Linked DNA regions of Homo sapiens. The protein of the gene in region 2 interacts with the protein of the main gene of each other region in a biochemical or structural test. Each region holds a gene or a part of one and is shown on either strand. Other genes may lie near its edges.

The links.
Region 1: the proteins of GLMN (region 2) and FKBP1A form a complex in vitro, tested with the Homo sapiens proteins (2 studies listed by BioGRID).

What each region holds. Positions count from the first base shown.
Region 1 is NC_000020.11:1,369,046-1,376,073, reverse strand, and holds part of FKBP1A (peptidyl-prolyl cis-trans isomerase FKBP1A), read left to right. Parts: intron 1-470; coding exon 471-583; intron 584-1,375; exon of another isoform or gene 1,376-1,590; intron 1,591-2,895; exon of another isoform or gene 2,896-2,996; intron 2,997-3,833; coding exon 3,834-3,962; coding exon of another isoform or gene 3,963-3,998; exon of another isoform or gene 3,999-4,358; intron 4,359-6,001; coding exon of another isoform or gene 6,002-6,045; 3' UTR 6,046-7,028. UniProt on the Homo sapiens protein: Keeps in an inactive conformation TGFBR1, the TGF-beta type I serine/threonine kinase receptor, preventing TGF-beta receptor activation in absence of ligand.
Region 2 is NC_000001.11:92,267,987-92,275,014, reverse strand, and holds part of GLMN (glomulin), read left to right. Parts: intron 1-3,362; coding exon 3,363-3,550; intron 3,551-5,238; coding exon 5,239-5,292; intron 5,293-6,879; coding exon 6,880-6,910; intron 6,911-7,012; coding exon 7,013-7,028.

The sequences.
Region 1 (7,028 bases), on a different chromosome or scaffold from region 2:
ACAATGGAGGAGCAATATATACACACATTATATGTGAAAGATGATGGGGGATTTTGGGAAGGAATATTGCTTCTTGCACTGTGTGTGACTTCTAGACATAGTGTGCACCTCGAGGGACCACAGTTATTTTTAGCTGGGGAGAAAATCCACGGGGTGCTGGGAGAGTCAGGGCAGGAGGAAGTTTATACTCCCCATCTCCAGAAGAAGGTGGACTGCCGCTCATCTCTGGTACGCGGGGTCCTTTTGTAGTCGAGTTATTGCTTGGAGTCAGGGAAGAGCATTCACAGGTCTGGAGTAGGACTGTCGCAACTCCTTAGATGTCCAGTGAGGTCACAGGAAACCCTCCCTAGATACTGCAGTTCCTGCCAGACTCTTCAGCACTGGCATCTCTGATGAGTGCTCTGCTGCTGGTTTCTGACTTGTCTTGTGTCATTACTCTGCTGCTCATGTTACAGTCGTCTTTTTCACAGGGATGCTTGAAGATGGAAAGAAATTTGATTCCTCCCGGGACAGAAACAAGCCCTTTAAGTTTATGCTAGGCAAGCAGGAGGTGATCCGAGGCTGGGAAGAAGGGGTTGCCCAGGTATGCTCTCTCATTTGTTTTGTTTTGCTTTCTAGTATTTACCTTTTATATTTTTTTATAGGTGGCATATTTATACGGTTCAAAAATAAAAAAAGTGAAAAGTCTCACCCTCATGCCATCCCATCTGACCAATACCCCCACAAGAAGCTCCTGTTGTTAATGTTTCTTGTACTGTGGTTTAAGCACATATAAAAACATAACTTTTTTCTTGCTTTCACACACATACTGTTTTGCAGTTTACTTTTTCACTTAATGCATTTTTGACACTTGCAATACCACTACATAAAAGAGGAGTAGGCTGGGCGCGGTGGCTCATGCCTGTAATTCCAGCACTTTGGGAGGCCAAGATGGGTGGATCACCTGAGGTCAGGAGTTCCTGTAATCCCAGCACTTTGGGAGGCCAAGATGGATGGATCACCTGAGGTCCGGAGTTCGAGACCAGCCTGGCCAACATGGCGAAACCCCATCTCCATTAAAAATACAAAAATTAGCCGGGCGTGGTGGCAGGTGCCTGTAATCCCAGCTACTTGGGAGGCCGAGGCAGGAGAATCACTTGAACCCAGCAGGCGGAGGTTGTAGTGAGCCAAGATTGTGCCATTGCGCTCCAGCCTGGATGACGAGAGCGAAACTCCATTTCAAAAAAGAAAGAAAAAATGAGGAGTAAGCTCTGTTACAGCTGCCTAGTATTCGTTTATGTAAGTGTGCTATAATTTACTTGGCTAGTGCCCTATTAATGAGTATTTGAGTCATTTCCAGTATTTTGCTATTATAAACAATGCTGCAGTAACTCACCTTGTACAGACTTCATTTTCCACGTGTGCACATGTTGCCATAGGACTTACTCTCAGAAGTGGGATGAGGGGCTCAAAAGCTGTGTGTAGTGTTTTTGAGAGGTCTTGTCAAGTTACCATCTCTAGGGGTTGCACTCTGGACTGCCACCACCAGGCTATAAAGGTGCAATCTCCTCCCAGCCCCAGCATCACAGTATATTGTTAAATCTTTGGCCTCTGGACAATAAGAGTAAAACATGATATCAGTGGTTTTAATTTGTATTTATCTATTACCCATATTGTGTGAGACCACTTCTGAGACGTCATACTTATGGAGAAAGTCATTTCGTTTGTCTTGAGTGTGTTTCCTAATCTCTTTCCTCCCCATTTGTGGAAACAGCTTTTGTTCTGCCAACACTACAAAATTCCCAGGAGACAATAGGGACCCAGGGTTGCCAAATTTTAGTTGGATTCTGTCTTTCCATCAAACCTAGGAATTTTTTCTTGGCTCTAACCAGGTAAAGGGATGTTTTTCAGTGACCTGAGACCCAAGGAACTTTATAATTAGGCTCTGCATGATGGGTAATTAGTCTGCTTCCCTCTCACCCAGGAGAATTAGAAATTTAACCAAGATGAAAAGACAGATTTCTGTCTCTCTCTTTTCCAGAATACACATTGCTCTACTTCCTCTATAAAATATCACTGATTTATCTCCAAATAAACTGCTCAACTTTCAGGAACTTGAAGCCATCCCACTCCCAGGTGTCTGGGTTTCTGTTCCTGCAGGGCAGAGGGTTGGCAGTGTGAGGAAGAGGCTTTGTAGTTTACTTCCCTTGGGAAACCTTGCCAACCATAGCTTTTTGCCTCTGTCTCCCTAGTCTGTCTGGCTCTTGGATCTGTAGCCCATCCCCCATCTTTCATGCCAGCCATTGTTCATACCACAACCCATCTTCTGTGACTGCTCCAGCATTGGAACAATCACTGCGTTGTATGTACTGAGTGCTGTATCTGCCATCGAGATAGTGTTATCGGCCTACTTCACTTCCCAGGCTTGGAGAGGCATGGTCGAGTATTGGACAGATGCCTGACTCCCCCTTTAACTGGTATTTTGGGGTCAGTCACAGCCCTGTCATTTGTGAGAAGTCTGGGTAGTTTGAGATCTACATAAAATATCTTTTAAATTCTTCATAGCATATTTTTTCACCAAGTGAGTTAAAAACACAGGAAGAAGGGGAGATTGACTTGTGACCCTTTTCCTTTCCTTTTGATATTGTTTTGGTTTTACATGTTTGCAGGCGTGGAGTCCTGCCTGCCACAAGGACCATTTTGGCAGCTTTCTTTCATCCATCTTGGACATCTTTTCATGTTAATACATTTAAAGCCACCACTATATGATTTCTCATGACTAATCCCTGGTGTGGATATGCCTATGAAACCACTCCTTCTGTGATGGACTTTTGAGTTGTTAGCAGAATATTCTGGAAATAGAATTGCTGAGTCAAGGAATATGATTGTTTTGAATTGTACAAGGTAAAGCCATACCTCACTATCCTTACCACCTTGGTCCAACATGTCCCAGCTTCTGAGGGGAGCAAGGACTAGACGCTTCACAGCCTGGAGCTTCCTCTTTATTCATCCTCTGTCTGGTGGAGTTGGAAAGTCGGGAACATACACATGGAGACCAAAAGCAGAGATAAGTCAAAGGATGGAAATACTGCAGAGAACCTGCTCACTGTTCAGAAAGTAGATATTTTATACTTATTTGTGTATTTAATTTGAAACTGAAAATATACACAAATATATTTTTTAAAGTAGAAATCTCTCCTTACTGGTCACTCACTATCCATACTGTTCTCCTCACAGCAAATGTCTGGTATGTCCTTCCAAAGATGTTTTCTGTTGTAGGCATATCAATATTTTCACAAATGGTATTCAGTAAATGCTATTTTGTAGCCCAGAAAATCATATTGTCTTTTTTGAAGTTTTCCTATATGGGTAAAAGAGTATAAATAGAAAAAATACAGAAAAAATAGACTACCCTCAAGTATTACTTCCTGTGTATATATTTTTTTAAAGCAAAGTTGAGTATTCCTTTTTCAAGAAGAGCATAGATGGCACTTAACATGTCCTTTAAGTGACAGATCACTGAAGGGGACTAGGTGGTGAGACATCTGGAATGTTACCTGCCTAGCATTAGTCATTAAGACTTGCGTAGAAAGGTTGAGGGCCTGACCGTTCTGAGAGTCAGGAGGGGTTTTGAACTGCCATTGGGCTTCTTGGAGTGAGATGCAGGGGTGATGGAATATGACTGCCAACCTCCAAGTCCTGCACAAGGAGGTGGTGATGCCTGGGCAGCTGCAAAGTCACTGGAAAGTCAATACCATCCTGGCCAAGGAACACCTAGGTAAACAGCTCTTTTTCTTACAGAGACAGTTGGGGCATGTGTCCAGCTGAGTCTGTCTTCCTTGTTCTTTTCACAGATGAGTGTGGGTCAGAGAGCCAAACTGACTATATCTCCAGATTATGCCTATGGTGCCACTGGGCACCCAGGCATCATCCCACCACATGCCACTCTCGTCTTCGATGTGGAGCTTCTAAAACTGGAATGACAGGAATGGCCTCCTCCCTTAGCTCCCTGTTCTTGGGTAAGGAAATGGAATACTGAAGGGCCCTTCACTGCCTTTGCTCCTCCCATGTTATGCCCAGCGTTTGATGGGTAGCAGAGAGAACAAAAAACACCACAAGGCTATTTTTCCCCCTGCATTCTTTCTGTATTGAGTATCCTTTCAGTGTTATTAGTGTATGCTTTGAATGTAAAAATTGGTCACCCTAAGGAAAGGAATTGGCATGTGTATGTTCCCAGTTCAACTCATGGAGATGGCAGCTGTTTAAATGTTTTTCTATGTAGTTTATAAATTAAAACTGAATTGAGGACTATGGAAATGTAGGCCAAATTTGTAGTGCCAACATTTTAGTTCTTTGGAAATAAGACTCTTAATGAATGACTTTGTTCTACCCTGTGTTTCTAGAAGCTAGAGGGGGAAAAAAAAAGCCCTTTGGATATGAATATCATGTCCTAGCTTCTGCGGCTCTCTCTTCACTGTGGTTTGTGGTTACTGCCTATTAGATGGTATGAGGGAGGCATTCCTGCATCGGTCCACCTGCTCAGGGTCCACACCCAGGACACTTGAGGCCCCCAGGCCAGCTTATCAGTGAGTGAAGTGGAAAAATGAAGCCAGAGGATGCTTGTGAAGTTGAAAGGATGCTCTTAGATCAGACAGTTCTAGGAAGGGATCTTAGGGGCCTCTGCATCAGCTTTATTGTGCAACAGTAAGGAAACAGGGCCAGAGAGAAAGGCCTTACTCAAGGTCACATCCAGGCAGTGGCAAAGTAGGACCAGAGCCCCTGTTTGTTGATTTTCCCCTCTTCCACCCTCATTTCTTAGGAACTAAACTCAGTATCCTAGTAGCACGTAACTTTTCATGTAAGTGTTAGAATCATTAAGTACATGAATGCTACTGGCTTCCTTCCAACTGGCCCCAGACCTTTTTATTTGCTCCCCTCCTGCCATAGGAACCAGAGGGTCACAGCCAAGGCCTGGGTGAGGACACTTTTGTTTGAAAGCCACAACAAATGGCTGCCATCCTATTTGTGATGGCAGTCAGAGCTACTTGTAACCTGGTCCTGTTGTGCACATCTGTAAGTGGAGGGGCTTTTTAAACTCTCTGTTTGAACCACACACACCTTGGTAATACAGGCCTGGTTAAGTTTGATAACTGGTTTCTTCACCTGTCATTGCTACTGGGAGGGAATCCCTGGCACTTTACAGGGCCTTTGTCTGCCCAGAGGTCTGCACCTAGGCCAAAATCCCTTTCCTGTTCTTTGAGAGCTGAGTCATTTTTTGAACATAACTGTACTCGAGGGAGCCTTGGAATTATTTTCCTGGTTGGGAACAGGCTTTCTGTAAACTTGATGAGGTAGAGGGAGGGGAGAGAGGGATAAAGGCTACAAGTCACCCCGAGTAACCCTCCCAACCCACTGCCAAAGAATGTCTCAGCTTCTTGCAAGAGTCTGGAAGGAAAATCCAAGGGCAAACCCAGAAAGTTTTAAGTTGAGTGAATGAATGAATACTGGAGATATTTTCCCAGTATACTCAACATTATGAATGACCAGTTTATTCTCAGTCTGGACTGCACATGAGAGTCACCTGGGAAATTTTTAAGACTTTCCTGATGCCCAGGTCAAACCCTAAACCAGTTAATCATAATCATGGGAGTGGAACCCAGGCATTAAGAGTTTTTTAAAGCCCCCAGGTGATGCCTATATGTAGCACAGTTTGAGACCCAATGATAGTGGGGAACTGTATTGTCAGCAGCATGGGTGGCTAGCCCTCCTGCTGTCCTCAGCAAGGCAAACTTAACCTTAGATTAAACAAAACACACAGATCAATTTAAGGAGAAAGTTTGTTTCACCTGGGACCCAGCCCAAGTCTTTCTGGCTGTCTCCAGCTGGAACAGAAGTGGCTTGGTCTCAGACTGCTCAGCTGTTGGGGAAGGGATTTGGCGTGGCAGATGGCATCGTGGCTGTCGCCACTGCACACAAAGAACACTGAGTTGCTGGAAACTCACAGATTTTCTGTCCCCAACAGATCTGCCATGGAGGGATCTGGTGCCTCCAGACATGTGCACATGAATCCATATGGAGCTTTTCCTGATGTTCCACTCCACTTTGTATAGACATCTGCCCTGACTGAATGTGTTCTGTCACTCAGCTTTGCTTCCGACACCTCTGTTTCCTCTTCCCCTTTCTCCTCGTATGTGTGTTTACCTAAACTATATGCCATAAACCTCAAGTTATTCATTTTATTTTGTTTTCATTTTGGGGTGAAGATTCAGTTTCAGTCTTTTGGATATAGGTTTCCAATTAAGTACATGGTCAAGTATTAACAGCACAAGTGGTAGGTTAACATTAGAATAGGAATTGGTGTTGGGGGGGGGGTTTGCAAGAATATTTTATTTTAATTTTTTGGATGAAATTTTTATCTATTATATATTAAACATTCTTGCTGCTGCGCTGCAAAGCCATAGCAGATTTGAGGCGCTGTTGAGGACTGAATTACTCTCCAAGTTGAGAGATGTCTTTGGGTTAAATTAAAAGCCCTACCTAAAACTGAGGTGGGGATGGGGAGAGCCTTTGCCTCCACCATTCCCACCCACCCTCCCCTTAAACCCTCTGCCTTTGAAAGTAGATCATGTTCACTGCAATGCTGGACACTACAGGTATCTGTCCCTGGGCCAGCAGGGACCTCTGAAGCCTTCTTTGTGGCCTTTTTTTTTTTTCATCCTGTGGTTTTTCTAATGGACTTTCAGGAATTTTGTAATCTCATAACTTTCCAAGCTCCACCACTTCCTAAATCTTAAGAACTTTAATTGACAGTTTCAATTGAAGGTGCTGTTTGTAGACTTAACACCCAGTGAAAGCCCAGCCATCATGACAAATCCTTGAATGTTCTCTTAAGAAAATGATGCTGGTCATCGCAGCTTCAGCATCTCCTGTTTTTTGATGCTTGGCTCCCTCTGCTGATCTCAGTTTCCTGGCTTTTCCTCCCTCAGCCCCTTCTCACCCCTTTGCTGTCCTGTGTAGTGATTTGGTGAGAAATCGTTGCTGCACCCTTC
Region 2 (7,028 bases):
ATTGCAGTTATTTTTCCAAGGCTGGCATTTTACTGGGTAGATACTGCTGAAGGAAATACAGGGTGCAGATAGTTCAGCTGGTCAATAATCCATGATTCAGGTTGGATAGGGAAAGAAGGGGGGTTAGGAGGGAATGCCTAGGTAGGTCAAAATGTAGGAATCACAGGACTGGAGAAGTCAGAAGTAGAAAAGCAGATTGCTAGGAGAGACAGGATGACAGATTTTGGTCAGAAAATGGGATATTGGAGTTTAAAGTATCAAATACAGAATAGTTCCAGATGTTCAGAGATCCAGCATGGGATTAGGTACTGAAATGGATTAGAACTAAAAGTCACTAGAATTTAGAAATTGAGAACCATGAGAGTGGATGCAATGACTTGTTGCTTGATTGAAAAATAAATTAATAATAATAAAGGACCATGAGACTAGCCTGTTATAGGGGTTATCTCCATGAACATTGAATTTTCCCAGGATCATAGCAGGAATTGGGTAGAGAAAAAGATTATGAGAAGGTGCCAGAGTCTTCAGTGAATGTCAGGAAATTACCAGGAAGTCAGCATATGACAGAGAAAAGGACAGTATGTTATCTGCATCAAAGGAAAATGTGCTTTTGTTGAAAAGTACAGAAAAAGCCAATACTACAATACTGTGCTAAGCCCCTACCTGTACTCCTCTACCCAACAGCTGCATTCCAGGCCCTGTGGTATAAAAGGTGTGAGAATGAGCATCTCCCACCAGAAATCAGACAGGTTTAGTTAAAGCAGTGAGGCAGAACAAGCATCCTATGAAGAGACTGAGGATGTAGGTGAGTGGTTCTAAAATCTCAGTAGAAGGAACATTGCAAGTAGAAAGAGCCAGCAGTAAGGATGCACGTAGCAGTCTAGAAGTAGAGGTGAGACCAGCTTGGAGATGAAATGAGGAGATGTCTTCTGTTCTGTGCTGGAGAAGTACTGGTAAGTGTGGTGTGGTTGGGATTCACAGGCCTCAGCCATCCTCACTTTGGTACAAGTTATTTTGGTACAGAACTACTAGAATGTCCCAAAGGCTGTAGTACAGGAACATTTCTGAAAGGACAAAAGCTGCCATGAATATTGAGAAATTGTATGGTGCCAGGTACAGCCTGGATCTGAGCAAGACTGCTGGATGGTGTGTGGATAGATAGTGAAGGCCCAGATTTGGGAACAGATTGGATCTCAGATATCCAGAGCAGCACTGTAGAATCTAGTTGCATATAATAATGTTTTAAAAAGGGTATCTTAGGCTGGGCACGGTAGCTCCCGCTTGTAGGCCCAGGCCTTTGGGAGGCCAAGGTGGGCAGATCACTTAAGCCCAGGAGTTCAAGACCAGCCTGGGCTGCATGGCGAAACCCCATCTCTATAAAAAATAAAAAAAATAAAAAAAAAATAGCGGGCATGGTGGCATGTACCAGTAGTCCTAGCTACTCAGGAGACTGAGGAGGGTGGATTGCTTGAGCCTGGGGAAGTCAAGGCTGCAGTAAGCCATGATCATGCCACTACACTCCAGCCTGAGTGACAGAGTGAGACCTTGTCGCCAAAAAAAAAAAAAAAAAAAACAGGGCTACCTTACTCTGGAAAAAACACATGTAGCATTGGCTGAATAAAGAAATGGAGCTTCATGATTAAGGACATTTGGAATCAGAGTGCAATAAACTTTTTGTCTTGTAGCTATAACCAGAATGCATGGCTTTGAAAATCACTGCAGCAGTATATATTTAGCATCTGGTCGCTGAATAGCAGTCTCTTGTGACTGAGGATGATTTTCCATGGTTCCTTTTTGTATTCTGAAATGACTAATGGAACCATCTGGGATCAGCAGATTTTAAGTCCCTGAAGGCTGGAAAAGACTTATACTTGGCTTTATAATTCCCCACAAAGTCAGGCCCAGCACCTTGCACTTAAGTGTTTATTGAATAAAAGAGTGACTTGTGTGGAAGTTATTCATTCTGCTTTAGCTGTTTTTGTCATTCATTCCCTTTTAACTCTTGTAGTTTGTTGTGACTTTAACTTTCTTACGCTTTTTTTGTGGAGCTGCTCGATAAATATTTGACATAGGTATTATGTCATTTTATGGCTCATCCAGTGTCACACAAGTAGTAAATGGTAGAGCCAAAACTCAAAATCAATGTCAGTGGATTCTGAAGGTAGGTGCTTTCTGGTACGCTAGAATTAGTACCAGTATAAGAGGCATAGGAGTGATCTTGTTTCCTGAGCGGAAAGCTTTATTTAGCCCTGTGGTCCTACCCACTCATGCAAGGATGCTTCTCTTTCTCGTCTCACATGAGAACCCTGATGACTGAGAGATCAACAGTGTTTCCTCAGGCCCAGCTGCCCTGCCCAGCGTTCCTGCATCCCACTCTCTACAGGCACAATGTTAGTGGAGCATTGTTCCTAGAGTATTCTTCATCTTAGTTGCTTTACCCTTGCTTCATATATTTGTATGTCTCACGTTTCAGATTGCTCTCAAATATCCCTGAAGCACTTTTTTAAAAAAAATTGTGGTGAAATATACATAAAATTCATCATTTTAAACTTTTTAAACTATGATTCTGAATTAATTTAGAATACTTCTGATGTATAAAATGCTATGTAAAATACGATTTTGCTGTTGGCTTCTGTATTAGTTTTTCATTGCTGTATAACAAATTCCTGCAAACTTAGCAGTTTAAAACAGCATACCTTTGTTATCTCACAGTTTCTATGGATCAGGAGTCCAGCCACAGCTTAATTGGGTCCTCTGCTCAGGGTCTCATTGGGCTACAGGCCAGTTGTTGACTGGGTCTGTAGTCTTATCAGAAGCTTAACTGGGGAAAGATCCACTTTCAGGTTTCCTCCGCTGGCAGAATTCATTTCCTCTAAGCTGTAGGACTGAGGTCCCCATTTTCTTGCTGGCTGTCAGCCAGGGACCACATTTAGCTTCTAGGAGCTGCCTGTAGTTGGTCCCTTGCCATGTAGTTCTGTCCATGAGCCTTCTCATAACATGGCAGCTTAGTTCTTTAAAGCCAGCAAGGGAGAGAGTCAGAGAGCAAAGTTTCTGACTCTCAGGGAAGGCCTGGACCCCCTTTAAAAATATACCTGATTAAGTTAGGGCCACCCAACTCAAAATCTACTGATTTGGGACCTTAATTACATCTGCAAAAACCCCTTCACTTTTGTCATATAATCTAATCATGGGAGTGACATCTTGGCGCATTCTGTTGGTTGAAAGCAAGTCTCATAGGTCCCACTCACGCTCAAAGGGAGTGATTACACCTCCCCTTGGTGAGAATGTGGAGTTTGAATACACGGGGTGGGGGGCATTTTAGAGTCTGTGTGCTATGGTTTCCTTTTTTATCCATTTCATAGGGTTTTTTATCAGCAATTGGACACCCTTTCCCCAAAATGATTTTTAATCATGGAAGGAAAAAGAGAACTTGGAATTACCTTGAATTTGAAGAAGAAGAAAATAAACAGTTAGCAGACTCAATGGCTTCTCTGGCATATCTAGTATTTGTACAGGGCATCCATATTGATCAGCTTCCAATGGTCTTAAGGTAAGAGTTAGTGTTTGGTTTATTCATGTATTCTAAAAGGAATTTCATAAAATTCTCATTTATCTAATGTCCAATATATGCATATTAACACACTAATACATTTTAAATAAATAGTAAAGGCTATTTTTAATAAGAATGATCCCAGCTATAATCTGTTAAAGATAGCAGTAGACAAGTAATGAAAGTGGGGAGTGTTGAAATAGGTGTAAGGGAATGGTGGGGACAAGAATCAGAAGATGATAAACAGGGCTTGGTTTTGAAGCTTTTGAGACCACCCTGGAACTAGCCAGGTACCCAGGGGTATCATCATCTTTTCACTGGATTACTGCTGTAATCCTGAGTGGATTTATATATCTACTTTTACTTCCTTTTAATTTAACACATTCTCAACATACCAGAAAGCGAAGCCTTAAAAGAAGTCCCTTACTGAAAACCCTCCAGTGGCTTTTTATTGCTTTAAGAATAAAGTCTTAATGCCTTTGCATAACTTCTGAGACAAACTTGTGCCTGGTCTGGTCCCTGCTTAATTGACCTGATTCATCTCCTACCACCTTTCCTCTTGTTTACTATGCTCCAGTGACACAGACCTTCTTTTGTTTCTAGTTTAAATGTTATGAATTTTCCTATTTGGCCTTTGTATATGCTTAAAATTCTCTTTATCCTTAAATGTCACTTTCTGAAGAAAGCCTTCACTCACCACCCAATTTAGGTTGAATCCTTCTATTATAATTACCTTGACCTTGTCTTCTTTTCCCACAATGTTTATTAAAATTATTTTTAAAATATATAATTTTATAATGTAATATCTTCTGGACTTTGAGTTCTATGATAATAAGGATTGTGTATTTGTCTTATAGGCATTGGGTATTTGTGTGAGTTTGTGCATTTATATATGAATATAGCTAGGAGTACATTCGTATGTAAATGTTGAAATACTGGCTATCATTTGCATGTTCACCATGTATGAAACATTATGCTAATAACTTTATATGCATTATCTCATCCTTATAATAAGCCTGTGAAATAGAGCATTCTCTCATTTTACAGATGAAAATAACAGGCTTAGACAAGTTAATATACCACTGAAGATCTAACTACTTTGTGGCATAGGTGGGATGCAGATAGCTCTGTCTGACCCCAGAGCCTATACTCTTAAGCATCACATTCTATCACCAAAATAACTTATACAGCATATGTATATTAACTTGCTAGGGCTCCTGTAAAAAAGTGCTACCAACTGGATGGTTGAAATAACAGAAATAGTTTGTCTCATAGTTCTGGATGCTCCTTCTGAGGGTTGTGAAGGAGAATCTTCTCCATGCCTCTCTCCTGGCTTCTGGTGATTTGCTCACAATCTTTGATGGTCTTTGGCTTGTAGATGCATTATCCTGTTCTCTGCCTTCATGTTCGTATGCTGTTCTCCCTGTGTGCTTGTGTCTGTCTCCAAACTTTCCTTTTACATAAGGACAACAGTCATATTGGATTAGGGCCCACCCTAATAATCTCATTTTAAATTGATTACCTCCATAACCCTATCTCCAAATAAGGTCAAATTCTGAGGTACTAGAGGTTAGGACTCCAACATATCTTTTTTGGGGGAGATACAATTCAACCCATAACAATATGTATGTGTGTACATATCTCTGTGTGTGTGTATAATATATATATTTGTTTTGTTTCTATTTTAGCCCATTGTACCTTTTGCAGTTTAATATGGGGCACATTGAAGTCTTTTTGCAAAGGTAAGATCGTTTAGATGGTATCTCAAAATGAAATAGTAGTGTTAAAATAGTCCTTGTTAAGATCAGCGGAGACTGCCTTTTCTTTGCTAAGCTCTAATTAATTAATTGGTTATTTTATAAAACAGCGAGGCAAATAATTCACGAGAGAGACAGAAATGAGTCAAGGAGGTTTTACACCAAAGTCTGTTTTATTTTAAACTTAAGACAGTATTAAGATTTTGTCTTAAGGGCTTTTACAGTCATCTGTTTCTAAGGTTTCTTCTCTTACTCCAAAAGTTGGTAAATTAAAACACCTCTACCCCACTGCATCCTCCTCCATCTTAAGGAAGGGCAGTCAATAAAAGAAGTTCTTCCGTATTTTTCCTTCATGGACACAGTCTGTGAATTGCATCAAAAGGAAGGAGGTGTCTTGACTTCCACCTTTTATAATTTAGATTATTGACAGTGATGTCATTCAATTACAACTTTTCTCATTTGAGGTGCTAAGCAGCAGGACTTTCTATTTAAAAAAAAAAAAAAAAAGCCAGGCACGGTGGCTCACGCCTATAATCCCAGCACTTTGGGAGACCAAGGCGAGAGGATTGCTTGACCCCAGGAGTTCGAAACCAGTCTCTCTCTCTACAAAAAATAGAAAAAATTAGCCAGGAGTGGTGGCGCCTGCCCGTTGTCCCAGCTACTTGGGAGGTTGAGGTGAAAGAATCACCTGTGCCTGGGAGGTCTGGGCTGCAGTGAGCAGAGATCATGCCACTGCAGTCCAGCCTGGGCAACAGAGTAAGACCCTGTCGCAAAAGAAAAAAAAAAAAAAAAGGAAATTACAGAGTAACAGGTATACATAATTTCTAGACAGAAATTAAAGAATTTCACAGAACTATATGCTTTGTTTTCTTTCACTATAACATGTAACATGTTTAAATTATCCCCTGAGATCAGTTAGGGCTTTGCAATTATCCTCTATGAACACTAGTGACAGTTTATCAGTCCCATCTCTTACCAGGTGAAGGAAGATTTGTAACATGGCAATGTCCAAAGCTTCAGCATACAAGGCAGGAATTTCCAAGGGTCTCCTGGCACAAGTAGTTACTAATTCTGTAAATTTGCTGTATTATGTATGTTTTAATGATTTTATATTCATTACATTTAGTTTCTGTTATTCATACAGTGATAATATGTATTGTTTTGAATCTAAGTCCTAAATTCTTGAGATTTCCAAACTGCAGAGTCATTGAGTCTTTTTTTGAATAAAAAGAATTGGAAAGATTTTACAGAATAATCAACTGGAATATATAGCATTGGTTATATCAGGTTTAGTTAGTTTCTTAGCACTTGCTGTTGAAGATCTATTGTTTTGAAGTTAGGAAATAATCCCTGAGTAGATTTATTTTGGTCAGATTTAGTGGCCTTAGCCAAACCGAAAGACAGATCAAAGATGGATTAAAACTTTTGATCAAGTTCTTCAACAGAATTTCTCCTTAATGATATGCATTTTAAAAGTGTTAAAATTTCAGTTTTTGCTGTATTTTTCATAAGATGAAGTATCATTCTAAAATAGTTTACAAATTCATGATAAATTTTAATATTATTTTTCAGAACAGAAGAGTCTGTTATCTCCAAAGGATTGGTAAGATGTTTGTTCCCATTATAACTTAAATACATAGTTATGTCAACAAATAACAGCTGTTGACTTCACTATATATGTATCTGCATATATTTTAATCTGTAGGAGCTGCTGGAGAATA